3 linked regions of the Homo sapiens genome follow. The protein of the gene in region 1 interacts with the protein of each later gene in a pairwise test. Each region holds a gene or a part of one and is shown in the gene's direction. Other genes may lie near its edges.

Evidence for each region. The genes of interacting proteins can lie anywhere in the genome.
Region 2: the proteins of AP1M1 (region 1) and ETV6 interact in binary tests that used the Homo sapiens proteins (3 or more experiments, as listed by UniProt).
Region 3: the proteins of AP1M1 (region 1) and RUNDC3A interact in binary tests that used the Homo sapiens proteins (3 or more experiments, as listed by UniProt).

What each region holds. Positions count from the first base shown.
Region 1 is NC_000019.10:16,200,889-16,207,967, forward strand, and holds part of AP1M1 (AP-1 complex subunit mu-1), read left to right. Parts: intron 1-2,570; coding exon 2,571-2,727; intron 2,728-5,452; coding exon 5,453-5,520; intron 5,521-7,079. UniProt on the Homo sapiens protein: Subunit of clathrin-associated adaptor protein complex 1 that plays a role in protein sorting in the trans-Golgi network (TGN) and endosomes.
Region 2 is NC_000012.12:11,644,764-11,652,673, forward strand, and holds the start of ETV6 (transcription factor ETV6), read left to right. Parts: upstream 1-4,910; 5' UTR 4,911-5,364; coding exon 5,365-5,397; intron 5,398-7,910. UniProt on the Homo sapiens protein: Transcriptional repressor; binds to the DNA sequence 5'-CCGGAAGT-3'. Plays a role in hematopoiesis and malignant transformation.
Region 3 is NC_000017.11:44,311,601-44,318,600, forward strand, and holds part of RUNDC3A (RUN domain-containing protein 3A), read left to right. Parts: intron 1-979; coding exon 980-1,095; intron 1,096-1,503; coding exon 1,504-1,652; intron 1,653-1,817; coding exon 1,818-1,903; intron 1,904-3,134; coding exon 3,135-3,224; intron 3,225-3,328; coding exon 3,329-3,409; intron 3,410-3,554; coding exon 3,555-3,720; intron 3,721-3,851; coding exon 3,852-4,009; intron 4,010-4,784; coding exon 4,785-4,922; intron 4,923-5,018; coding exon 5,019-5,125; intron 5,126-5,436; coding exon of another isoform or gene 5,437-5,523; intron 5,524-5,884; coding exon of another isoform or gene 5,885-5,904; exon of another isoform or gene 5,905-6,261; intron 6,262-6,495; coding exon 6,496-6,638; 3' UTR 6,639-7,000. UniProt on the Homo sapiens protein: May act as an effector of RAP2A in neuronal cells.

The sequences.
Region 1 (7,079 bases):
TACGCGTGCCTCCCCATGCTGTCACTCTTCCCAGGTGGGCTTTGACTCATGTCCATGGGCCAGTGACTCTCAATTTTGTTCACAGCATTTCTCTGGAGATCTAGTGGCCTCTGAGACACCAGAGAGGTCCCGCCGCCACCATAAATTCAGCATTCTTCTAAATGCACTCCCTGTACCTGCTCTCTTTCCATTTCAGTGATGCCATCACCCATTCAGCCATCTGCACAAGAGACCTGGACGTTATCCTCGCCTCCTTTGTCTCCTCACCCCTGTTTTCACTCCACAAATGTTTACTGAGCACCTACTATGGTCCAGGCCCCTTTCTGGGTGCTGGAAAACAGCTGTGAATGAGACAGGAGTAGTTGCTGTTCTCAGGGGATGTCAGACAGTAAAGGAGGATAGAAATAAATGTTTAATGCACCAGGTGATAGGGATAAAGCAGGGGTCAGGGTTCAGAGGGATGGGACATGATCTCAGCCAGAGCAAGCAGGGAGGATTTCTTTTTTTTTTTTTTTTTTTTTTTTTTTTGAGATGGAGTTACGTTCTGTCAGCCAAGCTGGAGTGCAATGGCACAATCTCGGCTCACTGCAACCTCTGCCTCCCAGGTTCAAGTGATTCTCCTGCCTCAGCCTCCCAAGTAGCTGGGACTACAGGCATGCACCACCACGCCTGGCTAATTTTGTATTTTTAGTAGAGACAGGGTTTCACCATATTGGTCAGGCTGGTCTCAAACTCCTGACTTCAGATGATCCGCCTGCCTCAGCCTCCCAAAGTGCTGGGATTACAGGCGTGAGCCACCGCGCCCAGCTGGGAGGACTTCCTAGAGGAGGTGTTATTTGAGCTGAGGCTTGAGAAATGAGAAGAGCCAGGTCAGGGCAAAGGCCCGAGGTGGGAACAGATGTGGATCACTCAGAGACCAGCTAAGGGGCCAGGCTGGAGCAGAGTGAACCAGGGCAGCGCAGGCAGAGAGGCGTCAGAGGGGCTGTGAGGAGCCAGACCACGCTGGTCCTTGGGAGCCATGGGGACGGGCTTGGGCTTTGTTCTCAGTGCCGGGGAGGCTGGGGTAAGTGGCAGTTCAGCAGTGGGGGAGAGACCCCGTCTGGCTTCTGTGTAGGAAGAGCCCTGTCACCCTTTGTGAGGAAGGACCTGGGGGGTCAAGAGTGACAGCAGGGGGAGGGGCTGTTCCCTCAACACGTCATCACCTGCCTCCCTCCAATCAGTTCCACAGGCCACGAAGCAGACACTAGGAAAGGAAGGTGCCACCCCGCACCACCCCCAGTCTCGCCTTGAGAGAATAAAGGCAGCGTGTGATGAAATGCCAAGTTCTGAGGCAGGTGGTTCCCAGGATGGTCAGCGCCGCAATGGCCTTCTCAGCATGTTGCTGAGTCCTGCAGCTGGCTGTCCTGCAGGCCCCAAGAGCTGCAGCTGCTCCAGGCAGCATCTCCAACCGCAGCCATGCCCAGGCTAGCAAAACTTCCGACCTCCTTTTTATTCTTTAATGAGGTATAATTTACATTAATAACCTGCACTTATCTAAAGTGTACAATTTGATGAGCTCAGTCATGTGGGAAGCCATAACCACACATTCCATCGCCCCCGAAAGCTTCTTCACACCCCTTTGCTGTCTAGCCCCATCCCTAGGCACCCACCGATGTGTTTTTCATCACCATTTTCTAGGATTTTATACACGTGCAGTCATGCAGGATGAGCTCTCGTTTGTCTGGTTTCTCTCAGCCAGCACAGTGATTCTGATGCGCCTGTGTATCGGGAGTCCGATCCCTTCCGTTGCTGAGGCATGCTTCTCATGGTGTGCACGGATACAGTTTGTTTCTAGTTCACCTGCTGAAGGACATTGGCATTGTTTCTAGTCTGGGTCTGTTTCAATTAAAGCTGCTGTTAAGATTCTCGTGCTAGTGTTTGTGCAGACATGTGGTTTCATTTCTCTTGGGTAAATACCAGAGAGAGGAATGACTGGATCGTATGGTAACTCTGGGTTTCACTTTTTGAGAAACTGCCAGACTACACCAAAGTAGTTGTCCCATTTTCCATTCCTATCAGCAGTGGACAGGGGTTCTGGATGCTGTATATCCTGACCCACAGGCTATGAAAGAGAGAGACCAGGAAGAGGGCTTCTCCCTTCAGGCCACCTGTGGACTTCAGTAAATACGAACCTTCAGCGGGAGTGGGCGCCCTGACACAGGCGGGAGAGCAAGGTGCGTTGGCCCGGCAAAGGCTCTGAGAAGGTCTGCATTGAGAGCTTGTGAGGCATTGCTTAACCTGATGTCTCTGGGTGATTCAGTCCTGGACCTTTGCTGCAGAGTTCGCCTCTACCCTCACCCTGCGAAGAACTGCAGTGGCCCCTGTGGGCATTCACACTGGGAGATGCTCTTCTCCAGGAATTCCCTGGGGGATGGAGATCAGAACGGCCTCAAGTCCTGCTCTTTTGCGGATAGTGGCCATGACCGGAGTCCCCAGAGCGAAGCAGGGTGGTGCATCTCACCCCCTGCCCCAAGCCCCCAGATTGTAGAACTGAAAATGCAAGCATCTTTTCTCTTCCTTCCCCACCCCAGGTGCTCATCTGCCGGAACTACCGTGGCGACGTGGACATGTCAGAGGTGGAGCACTTCATGCCCATCCTGATGGAGAAGGAGGAGGAGGGGATGCTGTCGCCCATCCTGGCCCACGGGGGGGTCCGTTTCATGTGGATCAAACACAACAACCTGTATCGTATCCCTTTGCTGGGGGTGCTCCCAGGGGACTCCTGTGTGGGTGTTGGTGTGTGTGCATATCCACACGCCTGCAAGCAGGGCTGGTTTGTGCACAGCGCAAGCATTGGACACAGCCATGCCCTCCTGGAGCTCCCTGCTGCCTGCGGAGACAGGCAGACAATGCACGATGACATGTGTGATGGGTGTGGGGAGAGGAGCAGGTGTGACTTGAACCTCTTCAGCCCAGGGGCCCAGGAAGGGAAATGACACCCTGGAGGAAGCCTGCAGGGAGGCCTGGCTTCTGCCAGCTGGAGGGGTGGGCAGGCACTAGGCGTGGGTGAAGGCTCTGCAGGGAAGAGCCTCATTCCAACAGCTGCACTCGGGGTGGCTGGAGAGGGGGCGTGTAGGGCAGCGAGGCTGGAGTGGTCAGCGGGGTCTGGGGTCTCAAAGAACATCATCTGAAATGTGACAGGAAGTCTCTGGAGGCTTTTAGATGTGTGTCTTCTGGAGGTTTCTGGCTGCTGAGTGGGGCAAGACTGTGGGGACAGGAGAGGACATGGGTAGGTGGGGAGTAGGCTGGGGCCATCGTGCAGGTGGGAGGGGAAGTGGCCTGGACCACGGAGGGGTGGTGGGGTACAGCCCCGCCCAGATCTCAGAGCCCCCCACCCTTCCTGTCCTTGGGCCCATGGGGAGACTTGGCCAAGCCAGTTTCTATCCAGGAGGTCTAACTGGCCACCCCACAGCTTTGGGCAGACCCGCAAGCCCATCTCAGTACCCACACTACTGCGGAAGGGCCTGCTTTGCCACTCACAGCCCGTTTGAGCCCCAGCTCCAGCAGCCATGGGGGATCCCTCACCTTCCCACAGTTCAGTGGGAACAACGACCCCTCACTGCAGGACCATTCGGGTCAGTTGAACTGACTTGTGCATATTGCTCCCAGCAGGCATGGGCTCTGTGCCCTTTCCTGTGTTCTTGGAGACACTTGGGGCCTTGCCAGTACAGTGTGGCCAACGGGCCAGAATATCCGCTGGGAGCCCTTTGGAAATGCAGAATCCCAGGCTCCACCCAGCCCTGCCCCGTCAGAATCTGCATTGTAGGAAGATTTGTTCCTGGTGGCCGGTGTGCACATTCCCATGTGGGCCGTGCTGGCCCAGGGCTCCCTGTGGTGTGCCTCTGTGTAGATTTCACCTGGCTCTGGAAGGCCCTGAGAATAGCTCTGAAGATGATCTTAGGTGGCTTTTTTTTTTTTTTTGAGACAGAGTCTCGCTCTGTCGCCCAGGCTGGAGTGCAGTGGCGCCATCTGGGCTCACTGCAAGCTCCGCCTCCCGGGTTCGCGCTATTCTCCTGCCTCAGCCTCCCGAGTAGCTGGGACTACAGGCGCCCGCCACCACGCCCAGCTAATTTTTTTGTATTTTTTTAGTAGAGACAGGGTTTCACCATGTTAGCCAGGATGGTCTCGATCTCCTGACCTCGTGATCCGCCCGCCTCAGCCTCCCAAAATGCTGGGATTACAGTCGTGAGCCACCGTGCCCGGCCTAGGTGGCTTTTAACCCAGGGAACTGACAGTCCTCTGAAGCCGCCCAGGTATTGGGAGAGGGAGAGGTGGCTGTGGTCTGAGCTCAGCAGGAGCCATCAGATCAGTTTCTGGTTGGGCCCCCACATTTCACACCTGGGCATCTAGGGAAGAGACAGGGAGGGCTCACCCCTCTGGCTTAGTGGACATCGTTTCACCCCCAGCCGGGACAGTGCTCAGCAAGGCCGTGGCTGAGAGGCACCCATGAGAAGGTGAGAGGCCCCCACTGCCCCTGCTTATAAAGCATCTGGGGAGGGCACATTGCCAGGCAGCAGGAGGGAGGCCAGCACTCGTTTGACTGGGCCAGCGTCCCTTTCCTGGGCCCCTGTGCTGTGCTGGGGTGAGGCGGGAAGGGAGAGGATACAGCCCCCACCCTCCCTCCTAGAGCTCACTCCTGGGCAGACGAGCCAGGCAGCACAGATGTGCCATGAACAGGGATGTCCAGGGTGCAGTGCATGGGCCTACAGAGGAAGAACCAGCCTTCTCTGGCGGCCCGGGGACCCATTAGGGAAAAAGGAATAGGAAGCGCCCAGCACACACTGACCCTGGGAGGCAGGGGCTGGCTCCTGTGGCAGAAGGGAACATCTGTGCCAGACATCTCACCTACATTGCCTTGGTGAGTTCATTCACAGGCCTCCATTACACAGGAGAGAAATATCAAGGTTTCTCTAGAAAGGTTTATTTCATGGGCCAAGGCTTGTGTTTCCAAAGCCAGGAAGGGCTGAAGCCAGAATTGGCCCTGGCTGCTTGCCACAGAGTCTGGCCGGGGGACCCTGGACCTCAGCAGGGTCATGATGAGGTCAGCTTTGGAGGAGCAGGGCCAGTGTGTCCTGCTTTCTGCTCCTGGAATGAGCCTCACTCCCTCCCTGCTCAAGGCAGCCCTTCACCCAGCCGCCGGGACAGGTGCCCTGTGCCACCTGCCATCCCTGTGATTCTCCATCTCAGTGAGTGCTCCCTGGGGCCTGGGAGCGCATCTGGCTGGTGACTCCTGTGTCCCAGGTCTAGCTTGGACCAGGAGCTTTGTAGCCCACCATGGGCCAAGTAAACGGCTGGGAGTGGGGATAGGGAAGGCTCTGAGGGTTGTGAGGGTTAGGGGGTCCCTCCATGAACCAGGATCTTCCAGGCAGCAGCCCCAGCCTCTGAATGCTCCTTAACTGTGGCCGCCATGCAGTGGTTGCCACATCCAAGAAGAACGCGTGCGTGTCGCTGGTCTTTTCTTTCCTCTATAAGGTGGTGCAGGTGAGTCTCGCTCGGAGGGGCCGTGGGCTTGGGTGGAGGTTGTCTTGGCTCTGCTTGTGGACCTCCCCATACCTGGCCACCCTACAGAGAGCTGTGGCATCCCCAGGGAGCACTGGGGCTGGAAGCCCAGGAAGTGGGAAAGGGGAGTCCCAACTCCCCACGCCTGTGGAATTCTATAGCTCACGTTGCTCCCCTACCGTGGGGAAGAAAGGAAAGTGAACAGGAAAAGGTAGGGCTCAGAGCAGGGGTGCCCTGACCCTGGAAGGGACAAGCAGGGGTCAGCGAGCTTTGGAAGGATGTGGGGTGACCAGCTGGATGGGGCTGGAATAACCAGCAGAGCTGCAGAGCTGAGCCCACCTCAGAATCTCCCAGGGGGCTCTCAAGGCACAGATGCCTGACGCCCACCTTGGAGAGAGCTGACACGCCAGGCCCAGGCTGCCAGTGAGACACAGATAGCAGCCAGGGTGAAGGCGCCAGGACAGGTGTATGTGTGGTGCAGCTAGGGAGGCCAGCGTGCGTGTGGCAGAGTATGAGGCTGAGGTCAGCTGGGAAGAGGGCGGATTATACAGGAGTGTGGATTTCATTCCACTTCTGATGAAAGGTAGTGGAGGGCTTTAAGCAGGAGACTGACAAGACGTGGTTTGATCTAAAGCAGCCTCTCTGGCTGCTGAGCAGAAGGAGGACTTGAGGCCAGTGAGGAGGCTGCTGCTGGCTTCCCGGAGAGGATGGGCCTGGCCGAGGTGGGCTGTGGGGCTCACGAAAGTGGGGAACAGGACCCAGGAGGCCTGTGCTGGGCCTGGGAAAGCTTTCATCCCTCACTGATGCTGCCTGTGCAGAATGTTGGGGAACAGGGGCAAGCCTGGGCGGTGAGGGCTTGGGGAAGGAGCCGAGGGTCACCTGGGAAGGCCCCACGTGCAGGCCAAGGGCTGCCTTCACTGGACCGGTGATGCTGTCACAGGCAGGGCTGGGCCTGGCTGTGCTGCCTGTGGTTTCCAAGCAGAGGCCGGGTGATCACAGTCCTGAAGCGCGCAGGGGTCAGCAGATCAGAGAATGGGGGATGCGGGAAGGGGAAGGTCCTCACCCAAGGGTTGGGCTGTGCCTTTCTGTTTTAGTGACGCTCCTTCCTTCAGCATTTGTGCCTGCAAAAGTGCTTCTAACAGCCCCTCTTCTTTGGCGTCCCTTCCTTAACCTTCTGAGCTTTCCATTGAAATGGGGAAGATGCATCAAGCTTTCCACTGAAATGGGGAAGATGGCAGCTCATCAGGTCCTTGCCTGAGTCACTCCAGACTCAGAAAGGGATGACAGTTACAGTCGCTCAGGAGGGGCTGCCTGTCTGCGGGTGTCTGGGCAGGGAAGAGAATGGGAACGCAGAGCTTCTGAAGGCCTCGGGACATCTGCAGTGGCTCCAGCCTGGCCCCACCCCACAGCCAGCCACTGCTGTCCTGCCCCATAACCTGGGTCCAGGGCCCTGTAGCACACCACCGAGCCTGGGAAGTAGGCTGTTGGTAGGACTTAGCGGGCAAATGAATGTGTGCAAGCGTTCATTCATTCCTCATCCG
Region 2 (7,910 bases), on another chromosome or scaffold:
AAAAAAAAAAAAAAAAATTAGCTGGGCGTGGTTGTAGGCACCTATAGTCCCAGCTACTAGGGAGGCTGAGGCAGGAAAATGGTGTGAACCCGGGAGGTGGAGCTTGCAGTGAGCCGAGATCGCGACACTGCACTCCAGCCTGGGCGACAGAGCAAGACTCCATTTCAAAAAACAAAAAAAGAAAATATGATCTGTAGTCAAAAAAGGAAACCATCAGGCCGGGCACAGTGGAACACTCCTGTAATCCCAGCACTTTGGGAGGCCAAGGCGGGTGGATCACGAGGTCAGGAGATCAAGATGGTCCTGGCTAACAGGGTGAAACCCCGTCTCTACTAAAAAATATTAAAAAATTAGTTGGGCATGGTGGCAGTCCCAGCTACTCCGGAGGCTGAGGCAGGAGAATGGCGTGAACCCAGGAGGTGGAGCTTGCAGTGAGCTGAGACTGCCATTGCACTCCAGCCTGGGAGACAGAGCAAGAAAGTAAATAATGAATTACATAGGCTTAACGGTAAATTGGAAAAAATCAGAGGAAGAAAACTTAGAAAGAAATAAGTAGAAAGCGTTCAAATTGAAACAAGGCAGGTGTGGTGGCTAGCACTGTAATCTCACTTTGAAAGCTAAGACAGGAGGATTGCTTGAGAACAGGAGTTCGAGACCAGCCTGAGCTGATCTCAAAAAAAAAAAAAAGGAAATACAAGGAAATAAAACAGAGTATTTGAGATACATGGAACAATAATATATGGTCTAATACTTGTATTAAGAATAAAAAAAGGAAACAGAATGGGTGTAAAAATATTCAAACAGATAATAAATGACAATTTTCTAAAACTAATGAAAGATACCAACCCACAGATCCAATAACTGCAGCTGACATCAAGGTGAATAAATGATAAATGCAAAGAAAACCACTCCTGTGTACATCATAGTCAAAATTCTGAAAACCTAATTTAAAGAGCAGATCTTAAAAGCAGCTACAGAAAAAAGTGTACACTGTACACAGGGGCACCAAAATATGTACTACAAGTGATTTTTTAGCAAAATATGAAGTCAGAAGAGGAATGACATGTTTAAAGTGCTGAAAGAAAAGAAAATGTCAACATAAAATTTTACGTACAGTAAAAATACCCTTCAAAAGTGAACATGAACTAAAGACATTTAGAGGCAGACAAAAGCTGAGAGACTTCTCCAACAAACAGCACACAGGCTATGCTGAGTGAAGTTCTTGAGGCCAAAGGGAAGATACCAGATGGAAAACCAGATCTGCAAAAAGGAATAAAAAAGTACTAGAAAGGATAAATATCTGGGCAAATTAAAAAGAGACATACTTTAATACATTCATTATATGCATATATTTACAAATTTCTAAATACCATAAAAATACAATGTAAAATGAATTTTATAACATATAGAAGTAAAATATAACACAACAATACAGAGGATGGGAGAGGGATAAATGGAATTACATTGTAACTTTTTTACAGATTCATAAAATAGAATAATATTATTTAAAGGTAGCCTGTGATAATAACATACGCAAATTGTAATTTCTAAAGCAACCACCATATTTAACATAAAGAAGAAAATCTAAAAAGACAATCTAGTAATTTAAATGGAATATGAAAGAAAAAAATCCAATTTACCCATAAGTTCTCAGAAAACAAGGAACAGAGAAACAAGCGACAAATGGAAATGAATGAATGAGAAAAACTTCCCTCAACCACTGTTATTGAACACTGAATGGCTCTGCAAATAAGCTTTTACTACAGACTCAATAATGTTTCTTTATGAATTTAACCTAAAACTACAAGGCAAAATAGAGCTTATATGCAAAACTTAAACTGCAGTAAAATCATTTTGACACAACTAACATTGTTTGAATCACAAATAATGTCAAGCTGTTTTACACACTTCTCATGCTGTCAAAAGTTAAAACAAGAAGCAAGATCTCCATTCCAACACAAATTTGCAGCAGTTATGTTTTTCTGAACTCAAACTACAGTACCAACAGTGTTTTCTGAATTTCAATGCAAGTGCAAAGGAAATTTTCATATTTAAAATTTACTTAACTGTGCAACTGAGAAGCTTCCATTTAACCTTCAACTGGAAGTGATTAATCTGCAATGTAATGGCATGCTAAAGGGGAAATATCAAGAGAATTTATAGAATTCTAATAGAATTTTAGAAATGCCTTCTAAGCAATGAATACACTCAAGTAAAATCATGTGCTCATGGGTTGGTATCAGTATTTGGCGGTATCTGTCTGGGTAGAAAGACATTTCAAAAATGAAGTACATAAAATCTCATAAAAAATCAGCATTAATAGATGAACATCTGCAGTCAATTTTTATGAAAGAACACTTTGAACACCAAGTGAAATGTTACTTTCCCCCCAAAAGAATTCCATGCCTTTCATTATTATACCTGTATTAAAATTGCTATTATTACACTTTGAATTGACAAAATAAAAAACTGTGGACTTTTTTTTCTTCGTGTTATATAAGTATCTACCTGACATTCTCAATTTTGTCTCTTGGCCCACAAAGACTAAGGCATTTACAGCTGGGCCCTTTACAGAGATTGGCAACCCCTGGTCTAAATGTAGTTTTTGCTACAGTTGTCAACTATGTTTTTTGCTTTGGAACCACAAACATTCTACTTCAAACTACTACTTCTATGAATCACTTGTAGACGTTGAGGAGGAGTTAGGAAGAAAAGTCGAGAACTAATTTAGTCCTGGGGTTAAATAATAATTGTAGCCAACTTGAATTGAGCACATATATTGTGCAGCTCTCTGCTAAGGAGGCATTTGTATATATTTTCTTATTTAATAAGATAATCTTATGAGCTAGGTACTATTTCTCCCCATTTTACAGAAGCTTAGTGACTGTGTTGTCAGGGATCACATTGCTAAGTGATGTGGAAGACATAACCTAGCAATGGGACATCTAAACCAATGTCTGCAACATCAATTAAGAAAAGCAAAAGAGGCCGGGCGCGGTGGCTCACGCCTGTAATCCCAGCAATTTGGGAGGCCGAAGTGGGTGGATCACGAGGTCAGGAGATTGAGACCACGGTGAAACCCCGTCTCTACTAAAAATACAAAAAAGATTAGCCGGGCGCGGTGGCGGGCACCTGTAGTCCCAGCTACTCGGGAGGCTGAAGCAGGAGAATGACGTGAACCCGGGAGGCGGAGCTTCCAGTGAGCCGATATCGTACCACTGCACTCCAGCCTGGGCGACATAGCAGACTCCGTCTTAAAAAAAAAAAAAAAAAAGCAAAAGAATACAGAAAATTGTTAAAGGGGAGAAGGGGGTGGTCAAAGGCAGAGGAGTCGGTGTGGACAAGACAGAGATCTCTTGGAGAGAGGGCAGGACTACCAGTTGACAAAACCTGTTCAGGTTCCTGGAGGCTCACAACCACCAGTTCCCATCATCCCAGCAACAGCACTCTTTCCCACCCTAGCCTCGTTCGTAATGATCTGATCAATGTGTGAACAAAAATATTGTGTGTACAAGTCTCAACACATTTGATAATGTGAAGAGGTGAAGGAAAGTGGGTAGGAAAAATCTGTAGGGTGGGGAGACTCGGGGAAATGTGTCCTGGTCCAGTGCAGGTAACATATATGGGTATATATGCGTATATACATATTTATACCATATTTAATATATTACTCTATTAAGAAATTATAACAAATTTCCTTTTACATTACACATCCACATATTAAACCCCCAATATGTGCTAACAAGGTTAGAATTTAAGTATAATGATAATGTTCTCAGTTTTTTGTGGTGGACACTTTAAGAGAGTGTAAATAATAATAAAAATAATAGAGTGATCAGATCACTTGTGCTCAGGGCTAGACCCTTCAGCCCCAACGGCCTTAACCCCCCTCAACTGCTTTTCCAACCAAATATTCCTCCCCCTGCAGGATCCCAGGGCCATCCAATCAACCGGCCAATGACGGTTTCAGAGAAGCGGTCCTGGGGAGGGGTATTATCTGCAGGAACACGTCCTGCCAACTTTGTAGTCGAGTCACCTATTTCGGTTGGTAGCGGCCGCTATTTCTTTAAAAGGGCAGTGGATTTCGAAACAGGAGGGGGAGGTCAGGAAAAGGAACTCAGCTGCCTTTGATAACTGCCCTGCAGCCTTCCCTTCCCGGAGCGCGTGCTCGGCTCGGGAAGCGCCCGCGGCCGCCGCATCCCCGAGCGGGCGCGTGGCGCCACCTCTTTCCGGGGCGCCCACCTTCCCCGGGAATCCCCCCGCCCGACGGTCCCCCAGCGTCTGCGGCGCGGCCGCCCCGGCTTTGTCTCCGGCGTCGCGCTCGGGCGCCCGCTCTCCCCACATTTCCCCGTGTGCAGGCTGTAACCCGATCTCCCATTTCCTGGTGGATTCTCTTAAAGAGGCAGCGGTCGAGAAGCAGAACAAAGGCTATTGTTTTATTTCCTCCTTCGGATTCCGCGTCCTAACCGGAATGGCCCTTCATAGATAATTACTTTCGTTGCATCTGCGCTTAGTGAAACGTTTCAAAACCCTTGTGCACATCGATGTATCCAAGAGACGGAGCCAGGGGAGGTGGGAGGAGTTTAATAAAACCTGTTTTGTGGTGTCTGGGGCCACAATGTAACGTTTTTTAAAGGTGTCTTCCTTAAGCCCGGAAATTGGCTCGGCCAGCGGGAGGTCTCGCGGCGTGGAGGGCGGGCGCCCGCACCGGGGGCCGGCCTGGGGGGCTGCGCCGCTCGCCCCGCTCGCAGCCGCGGCCCCACGCGGCCCCGCTACCCGGGTTTCCTCCGCCCGCGCCCCCGCGGCCGCCCCTCCCCCGCGCAGCTTTTATTTCCCCGATGCCGGGCTGTAACCCGAGCTTTTATTTCCTGGTGGCTCCTTTAAGAGGCAGAGCTCAGTGCTGGGAATTCACGTCAGTTTCTGCACTGAAACTCTCAAGATCAATGAGCAAAGAGCTTTCTCAGTTCTGCCTTTCAGTTTCTCTCTTCCAGGAAGGAAAACATTCGAGAGAGCGAGGGAGAGCCGCGGGAGGGCGGGGGGCGGGGGCGCCGGCTGCGGGTGGGAGGAGAGACCGGGAGGCCGGCCGGGCTGCGTCCCGGGTCCCCGCGCCGCGCCGCGACCTGCAGACCCCGCCGCCGCGCTCGGGCCCGTCTCCCACGCCCCCGCCGCCCCGCGCGCCCAACTCCGCCGGCCGCCCCGCCCCGCCCCGCGCGCTCCAGACCCCCGGGGCGGCTGCCGGGAGAGATGCTGGAAGAAACTTCTTAAATGACCGCGTCTGGCTGGCCGTGGAGCCTTTCTGGGTTGGGGAGAGGAAAGGAAAGTGGAAAAAACCTGAGAACTTCCTGATCTCTCTCGCTGTGAGACATGTCTGAGACTCCTGCTCAGTGTAGCATTAAGGTAAAAATCTTCTCCCCTCCTTCTACGTGGTGGAAACCCTGAGCTGCACCGGCCAGGGCAGTCGTGCTGGGCTCCTCAGAGCAGGCTGTTGCAGTTGCTCTGTTCGCAGGAAATTATTTGGGGCGAGAGGGAAAGAGATGCAGCTCGCGGTGGCTGCTGTACCCTTTAGCGTAACCTTGCTACTCCCCCCCACCGCCGAGCCCCTGCCGGCTCCTCGGCCCCCACCCCCTTGCTTTTTGACAATGAAATGCCGGTCACAATTGGTCAGAGCAACCCGGATTGTCTCCAGAACCGTAAAACACCCCCGTAATTAGTGCGCTTAAAAAAAAAAAAAACAAAAAACAAAAAAAAAAAACCTGCTCCCTATTCCTACACCCAACATGTGACTGAAATATAACTTTTGTTCCCGAGGGGTGGTCGTCTTAGAAAAAAAGTTGTTCAGTTTCCACTGCGATAGAATCTTTTTATTTTTTTAAAGGACTCTCTGGGTCTGATCAGACAGGATTTTTTTCCCCCTCGTCTGATTGTAATTGCAAGCGCTGTCGGAGAGACAGTCCTGGTGTCAGCTTTTCCTAGGCATTGCACAATGAATTTTTTTTTAAAACCAAGGTGAATAAAGTTGCTGAATAGTTATTTTACTCCGATCCATATGAAAGTTGAGCAATCCCAAAGTAGAAAACTCCTGTGATGGAGGGAGAGGAAGAACTAAGCAACCAGGCAAAATGACCTTCTGTGTTTGACAGTGCAGAGAGGCTATCTAAGCAGCACTCTGTAAATGCAGGGCGGTAGATGTTTGTAAACACACTGCTGGGCTACCCAGTAGTTGTGTGTATGCATGTCTATATATCTGTAAAGACTGTGGTGCTGCGGTTTGTTGCTTCTAAAAAGTTGTTGTAAAGTTTGCCACCATTGGGAGGCAGGATGATTTATCCATCTACCCGTGTTATTTTTCCCATCGCTGCATTTATTGTACACTTTATTCATTTCGCTGTTCCACCAGTACCCAGGTAGAAAGCCTTCCGCTCTTGTGAGAGGCTGAAGCTGCTGAAGTTTGTTTTTGGTTTGGCCTATTTAATGTGTGTTCACTGAATGGACACTACAGCAACAATGAACAAATAACCTGTTTTCTTCGTCTGTGGGGAGTTAGAAAAACCCTTCCTGGTTTAACACTGCCTTTCAATTAGAGTCTGTGTAGGGGAAACGCAGTAGTTCATCATACGTGCTTACTAGGTTTTTTATAATTAGAATCACATTTTGGTGTTTCTTATCAGAAAAGATATTCATGGGTTTGAGGATAGGCTAATGTGAAATCAAAAGGTGGTTTGGGCTTCTTTGTTTTTGCCTCACAAAAATGCCTAATGGAACTTTTAGGCTTTTGTGTTTGTACATAACTGGAGGTAGCAGTATGTATGTCTGTGGGCATGGGGCGTGCCACACTAAAGAACTTAGGGTACTTTGATATTAATACTTCAAAACCAGTTTCTTTTGCGGTATAAATTAGATTCTACACAGAGTTCAGGAAAATCCTGCGGTATAGATAATCTAATTTATTTGACGCTTCATAACATAGAGGTAACTAAATAGTAGGATATTCAATAAATAAATTGTATTTGGCTCAGTGGCAATAAACCCGACATCAGGAAAATCTGCCAACTACAGATCAGTAACTTTAGGGCAAAAACAACAAAAAACAATGCTTTCTGTGACGTTTCTTGATCCTCTTCTATACTGCATCCCCACCGTTTTGATGGGCTTATGGTGGTGTGCTGGCTGCAGACTGCTACTGAGTGGTTTGTTTCATTGTGCTCCAGTCGGAAAAAGAGTACAACAGTCCCTTGCCTTACTCACATACAGAACCAATCCCAAGCAAAACGCGTTCTTAAATGCAACATGAAAATTGTCTGTAATTTGCATATCATTTTTTTCCTTATTGCTTACAACTCAGTTCTTTCAGGGTGCCTCTTTTCATTACTGTGTACTTCTATGTAATTAAAATAGATTTAATGTTCTTTACCAGAAAGGAAAGAATCACTTTTATTTTGGATCGTTCTTTATGGAACGAGTATGTATTTGCTTAGACTGCATGTGTCTAGGTGAACGTATGTGAAGAGTATCTTTCCATGGAGTTTGTTTAATTCAGTGTTCCAATAATAAGCACTAGAGATCAAGGACTGGGATTATTCCAGGTCATCTGAAATGTTCTGGTGATGTGTGCTGCGTTTCATTTAGTCCTTGGGATGTGGTACGGTGACTGCATAATAAAAAATGTTTGCTGGTAACCCACAAGCAAGTTGCTTGCTTCTAGAGTCCAGTAAACAATATGCTTTTCTGTGTAGTGAAGAACGAATGTCAGAGGTTTTCAAGGATGAGCTGATGAACCTGATATACCGAACTCCTGTGACACAAAAGGCTCTCACTGTGGAGAGGTTTTTCCCAGTCCTCCTCTCCACTCCTGAAACCGTCCTCACTTGCTTTCATTCCTTACAAGTAGCGGGTCAGCAGGCAGACAGTTC
Region 3 (7,000 bases), on another chromosome or scaffold:
ATTTCCCTGGACACCCCGCCCCTGCTCTGCCACCCACAGCAGGGAAATCATGGGATGTTAGGAACTGTGTCCTCATCCCTGCCCTACTCCATTGCAGGGATGGCAGGGGGAGATTGCAGGGGTAGTGACTGCAGAGGGAGCCTGAGGCTTAGACAGGACTGGAGAGGGGGCACTGCATGGCTTCAGTCCTTCAGCCCCACAGGCTTCCCTTAGTCCCTTCCTCCCAAAGAAGCCAGGCCCCCAAGCCCCTTCCAGGGATCTGCTGCCAATGCCCCCTCCTGCCCAGTGTCTGTGTCAGGCCCATACCCCGCACCTCCCCACCCCACCCCCGCCCAGCTCTGCACTGCCTGGTTCTGGGCAGCTGGTGTGTGGGAGGCCAAGCCGGGAAGGAAAGGGGGGAAGGGGGTATCTGTGTACTGGGAGCCCACCTGGCCACCTGCGCATGCCCACACTCCATGTGCACAGTGCCAACTCACATGCCCTGGTACAGGTGACCCCCATCCCCAAAAGGGACTGAAGGTTGCTCCAGCAATCACAGAAGACAGCTCAGGTGGGGCACACACTGGCTTCTAACACCTAGTTGACCCAGGCCTCGCACACACAGACCCTGAAGGGTGGTCTATGGGGAAGGGGCTCCTGGACCGCCCCCGGCTTGTGCCTCATCTTCCTATTTTTTCAGTCCCTCTCACCCCTTGCTCCCGAAGCTTCCTTTCTCTGGCTGTCACCTCTCCTGTCACCCACTTTGTCAATCAGTCTCCCACCTGTCACCCTTCCTCCCCATCTGCCACCCTCTCACTCCACATGACACGGTACCTCTATGGTCACTGTAGTCTTGCCTGTCTCCCCACTCGCTCTGCCCCCCACCACATCCATGCCCTTCCTGACCTTTCTTCTCTGCCGGTTGCTCCCTGTCTCTCCCTCCATCACCTGTTTCCTCACCTGACACCCCACTGCCCCATCTCCCCACCTCGCCGCCCAGGTTCTCTGTGAAAACGCTGCTGGAGAAGTACACAGCGGAGCCCATCGATGACTCATCGGAGGAGTTTGTCAATTTTGCAGCCATTTTAGAGCAGATCCTCAGCCACCGCTTCAAAGGTGGGCCCAGCGCCCCTCCCCCAGCGGTCCCTCCCCCAGCGCCCCTCCCCCAGTGGTCCCTCCCCCAGCGCCCCTCCCCCAGCGGTCCCTCCCCAACTCCCAACCTTTAGCTCCCAGCCACCTCTTTCTGATATACTCCATGGACTCTGAACCCCCTCATTGACCCTGGCCCCCATTCTGGGCCATGCACAGAAGCTTGTGTACAGATCTGGGAAGAGGGAGAGGCCTTTGGCCTACAATCCCCATCATGGGCAAGCGATATGCTGGGGTGCCCACTGCACACGTGCATGTGTGTGCACAGATCTTTGTGGGAGGAGGCTGCTTATGCTTATGCATGTGAGTGCCTCACTACATGGACCCTCTCCAAACTCCCTGGTCTTGCTGAGCCCCCTCCCTGCCCTGGCTCAGCCTGTGCCCCAGCAGGTCCAGTGAGCTGGTTCAGCTCAGACGGGCAGCGGGGCTTTTGGGACTATATCCGGCTGGCCTGCAGCAAAGTGCCCAACAACTGTGTGAGCAGCATCGAGAACATGGAGAACATCAGCACAGCCCGGGCCAAGGTGAGGGGCCTGAAGCAAGCAACTGCTCTCTGCTCTGGACACAGGGGGCCTGCCTGTTTCTTGGTTTTTGCCCCCTGTGCACAGCCCAGGGGAGAAGGGCCCACACCTGATGCTGGACACATGAGTCCCTCTGGGGCAGCAAGTAAAGGTGAACATGATTTCCAGGGCCGGGCATGGATCCGGGTGGCACTGATGGAGAAGCGCATGTCAGAATACATCACCACGGCTCTGCGTGACACCCGGACCACCAGGTCAGACTTCCCAGGCAACTCAGACCACAGGTCTCAGAGTGCACCTGCATTGCCCAAACACAGCTGATCCTTAAGTTCCTGCAGCATCCTTCAGTTCCTGGACTACAAGTCCCAGCACCAGCACACATGGCTGATTTCCCTCTTCCAGCCTGGCCTGCAGTCCCAGGACGAACTCTTTTTTTTTTTTTTTTTTTTGAGAAGGAGTTTCGCTCTTGTTGCCCAGGCTGGAGTGCGATGGCGCGATCTCGGCTCACTGCAACCTCCGCCTCCTGGGTTCAAGCGATTCTCCTGCCTCAGCCTCCTGAGTAGCTGGGATTACAGGCATACGCCACCATGCCCAGCTAATTTTGTATTTTTAGTTTCTCCATGTTGGTCAGGCTGGTCTCAAACTCCCAACCTCAGGTGATCCTCCCGCCTTGGCCTCCCAAAGTGCTGGGATTACAGGCATGAGCCACCGCTCCTGGCCCCAGGACAAACTTTTACCACCACCACCACCACCACTTGCAAGTCAAATCTAATGCCCATTATTTGCCATCAATGCCCAGCACGCTCCACCCTTGCACACCTCTGGATGAGCCTCAGCCATGCACCATCTCAAGTGTTGGCTTGCTCCATGATCTACAACACAGCCCTTCTGTCTCTCCAAACAACGAAAGCAGTTCTGTACTTGCTATTCACGGACACAGAGTCCTTATATGGGGAGTTCAATCCCTGCACTGTGGGTTCACAGGGAGGTTGGGTGCCTGAGGCAAGGGGTTACAAGGAGGAGTGTGCCTGTGTGGGCAGGTGCATCTGAAGCTGTCTGGGTGTGGCGGGGGGCATATACCTCCCCATCCCAATTGGCCATACCCAGCCTGATGTTTTTACTGAATTCCATTCCTCAGTCTACACGTTTCAAGTTAACACGTTTTTTGCGCACCTACTGTATACCAAGCACTAATGATTAAGACTTGCTTCCTGATATGAAGGATCTGGGTAACCCAGTACTTGATGAGGAAGGGGTAGCTCAGAGGGAGGAGTCGGCTCAGGGAACACCCATTCTAGGTGATGGGGCCACAGGTGCGAGCCCCAGGCTGAAGGGGGAGAGAGGCTCCAGGCCTGCGTGCAGATCAGGAAGGAGAATTGGCCTTCCTTCAGGATGGGGTGGCAGTAAGCCAACAATAGCAGCTCTGGGGGGGGGGGGGGCGCTCCAGGGGCCTGCTGCATCCTCTGGCCCTCTGCCTCCCCACAGACGGTTCTATGACTCTGGAGCCATCATGCTGCGGGATGAAGCCACCATCCTCACCGGAATGCTGATCGGACTGAGCGCCATCGACTTCAGGTGGGGTCTGCCTGACGGCAGTGGTGGAGGGGGCTGTTTCCCCCATAAATGTCCTACCCCAACCCCTCACACCCACCTCCAACCCTGTGGCTCCTCTGCCTCAGCTTCTGTCTAAAGGGGGAAGTCCTGGACGGGAAGACCCCCGTGGTCATCGATTACACGCCCTACCTAAAGTTCACGCAGAGGTGAGCGGCTCCATGACTGCGGCGGGGCGGGGGACGGGGCCTCGGGACATCCTGGGGACGTCCTGGTCCCACCGCCCTCAGCGGCCAGCGCAGACGCGCGGGGGGAGGGGCGGGACCGGCCGTGCCCACTGCTCCCTCTCCCAAGCTACGACTACCTGACGGACGAGGAGGAGCGGCACAGCGCCGAGAGCAGCACGAGCGAGGACAACTCGCCCGAGCACCCGTACCTCCCGCTCGTCACCGATGAGGACAGCTGGTACAGCAAGTGGCACAAGATGGAGCAGAAGTTCCGCATCGTCTACGCGCAGAAGGTGCGCGACGCCGGCGGGCCCGGGGGGCGGGCGGGCCGGGCGGGGGATCCGGGCATCCCGGGGCGGGGCGGGGATGGGGGCCGCGGCCGGGACGTCCTCCCAGCCGCCCGGGCTGAGCCGGCGCCCCGCAGGGCTACCTGGAGGAGCTGGTGCGTCTGCGCGAGTCGCAGCTGAAGGACCTGGAGGCGGAGAACCGGCGGCTTCAGCTGCAGCTGGAGGAGGCGGCGGCGCAGAACCAGCGCGAGAAACGGGAGCTGGAAGGCGTGATCCTGGAGCTGCAGGAGCAGCTGTGAGCGCACGGCCTGCCCTAACCCCTGACCCCCGCCGCCCCGACCACATCACCGGGTGAACCCCATCTTCACTTCCATCGACTCTAACATCACCCGACACGAGCACCCACCTCTCCAGCATCAACCCTCTGATCCAGCCAGCCCCACCCCGAGATGCCCACAATGATCTTCTAACATTGCCCCCAGCATAAGATCCAGTGACTTCCAACAGCCAGAGCCCACCCTTCACCTTCAGTTATCTTCCGCTAGAGTGGCCATCCAACCTTACTGCAGGGACCCCACGTCACTCACAAGGACCTGCGGTGTTGCTCTGCAACCTTCAACACGATTGCATTCATCGCCTCACTCACCTGCACCACAGGCTCACTGACCGTCATCATCCGCCGTGACCCCCGACCTCACCCCTGCCGATCCCTGTAACACTTCTTCTCTACGCCTTTCCACCACCCTGATCTTGCGGCAAGATCCCCAAGACGATCTTACACTTCAGGGATTCCCACACTATCCTCCACTGACGTCCCCATCACCCCAGCTGACCCCAACAACACTGCACCATTCCCTCCAACTCCCAATATTTGTGCACGAATCCCTGTCACCCCTCCACCCCAGTACCACCTCCACTTCCTCCCGGGATCTGGCCCACTGACCCCAACACCGTATCCCCATTTTTGCCGCTCAGATTTCATTCCTGACCCCTCCCTCATCCCCTTGCTGAATCTCCCTTCCTCACTTCTCCTACTTCCAGCCAGGCCTGACTCCTCCTCCCCCTCCCAGGACAGGTCTGATCCCCAGTGACCACGCCCCTCTGGCCCAGGGTTCCAAGGAGCTCACTACACCCCTGGTCAATCAATGGCCCTCACTGGGAACGCTTAATGGGGCCGAGGGCGCCAGCAACTCCAAGCTCTACCGGAGGTAAGCCCCAGCCAGGTGGGGCTTGGGCCTGAGAGCGGGTCGTCCTGGGGAAGAAGGGCTTCCTCTACCGGCGCACCAGCTCTCGCTCTGCCGCAGACACAGCTTCATGAGCACGGAGCCGCTGTCAGCTGAAGCCAGTCTGAGCTCGGACTCCCAGCGCCTGGGAGAGGGCACGCGGGACGAGGAGCCCTGGGGTCCCATCGGTGAGCTCCCCCAACCCAACACCCAGTACCCCTCCAGAAAGGGCTGAGGCAAGGCCCTGAGGCCTCAAGGCATGTCCTCATTCATTCTCTTAGTCTTTTTTTTTTTTTTTTTTTTGAGACGGAGTCTCACTCTGTCATCCAAGTTGGAGTGCAGTGGCGCAATCTCAGCTCATTGCAACCTCTGCCTCCCGGGTTCAAGGGATTCCCTTGCCTCAGCCTCCCGAGTAGCTGGGATTAAAAGCGCCTGCCACCACGCGCAGCTAATTTGTGTATTTTTAGTAGAGACGCGCGGCTAATTTGTGTATTTTTAGTAGAGACGGAGTTTCGCCAGGCTGGTCTCGAACTCCTGACCTCAAGTGATTCACCCACCTTGGCCTCCCAAAGTGCTGGGATTACAGGTGTGAGCCACTGTGCCCGGCCTCTCTCAGCCTTTCTTGAGGGTTTAGCACAGCAATCGAGAGCTTACTTTGAGGTGGCAGAACACAGCATATGCAGAACCCAGCATAAATCTGGCTGTGCCTCCTCTGACCATGTGAGCTTGGTCAATCACTTTACCTCCATGAGTCTATTCTTTGTAAATGGGGATGTTGATAATCACCAATGTTGTCACATGGTGAGGGCTCAGTGGTTTTTTAGTGTCATGACATCCTCGGGGGCTCACAAACTCTCGGGGAACTCCTTAGACTAATTTGCTCTTATCTCATGCACACTGTGAACTACTTGCCTGACCATTGTTTCCCCCTTCTCTTTGGCTGCCAGGAAGCTCAGAGCCAAATTAGTGGCTCCCTTCGAGCGAATGCCCAGGACTTCAACGCATGCACTTTGTGTTGACCTCATCCCTGGCTTCACCTTGGTTTTTCCCATCCTAGTTCTCCCTATGCCTGAATATCCTGTCTTTTCTTTTTTATAAGCAACCACACTGTATTGGATGACCCTAGATCTTCTTTGAGACAAGGCAGGCTGTGGCCATGTAGCCCCATCACACTGTGTTTGTGATTGTCTGTGTGTCTGTCTCCCCCACCAGACTGTGAGCTCCATGAGGGCAGGGACCGTGTCTTGTCCGTTCTCTGTATCCCCAGTGCTTGGAACAGAGCGAGTGCTCACTGTGTATTTAATAAATGGACAAAGAGAGAGGATGACCCTCACGGGGAGACAGAGACATCAACTGACGATTACAATACAGTGTCCCCAGCACGGTGCCTGGCACAGGCAGGTGCTTAACCAAAGTTTAACTGAAAATGGCAAATGCTGTGGAATATGCCAAGGTCTCCTGGGGGGTGACTTGAGGGCTGCCCCTTCACTGCCCACCCCTCTACCAACTCCCACACATGTAGACTGGTCGCTTGGCCTCACCTGCCCTCTCTCCCCAGGGAAGGACCCCACGCCCTCCATGCTGGGCCTCTGCGGCTCCCTGGCCTCCATTCCCAGCTGCAAGTCCCTGGCGAGCTTCAAATCCAACGAGTGCCTGGTGAGCGACAGTCCCGAGGGCAGCCCAGCACTGAGCCCCAGCTGAGGAACAGCATGGGCAGTGCCAGCCCCACCTGCCAGGGGCCATGGACACCTGCCACCTTTCTTCAACAAGAGTCCCCCAATCCAGGCTACCCTTCCAGAGAACGCTACCCACCCAGCCAGGGTTCTCTCGGGGAAGATCTCGTCTGCTCACCTTAGCTTTCTGCCTTGGCAGCACGGGCTGCGGAAGAAAGCACGCTGGGCCAGGAGGCAGGGGTGCCCAAGCCACAGGGAGCCCCTGGGGAAGCCTGCTCCATTCTTCTGGTGACCTTGGCGCTCCTTCACTCATCTCCCCTGCCCCCTCAGGAACTGGTGGCCCAGCTTCCACACCCCCACCTCCCAGTCTCTAGCCTCTCCATCTGTCTG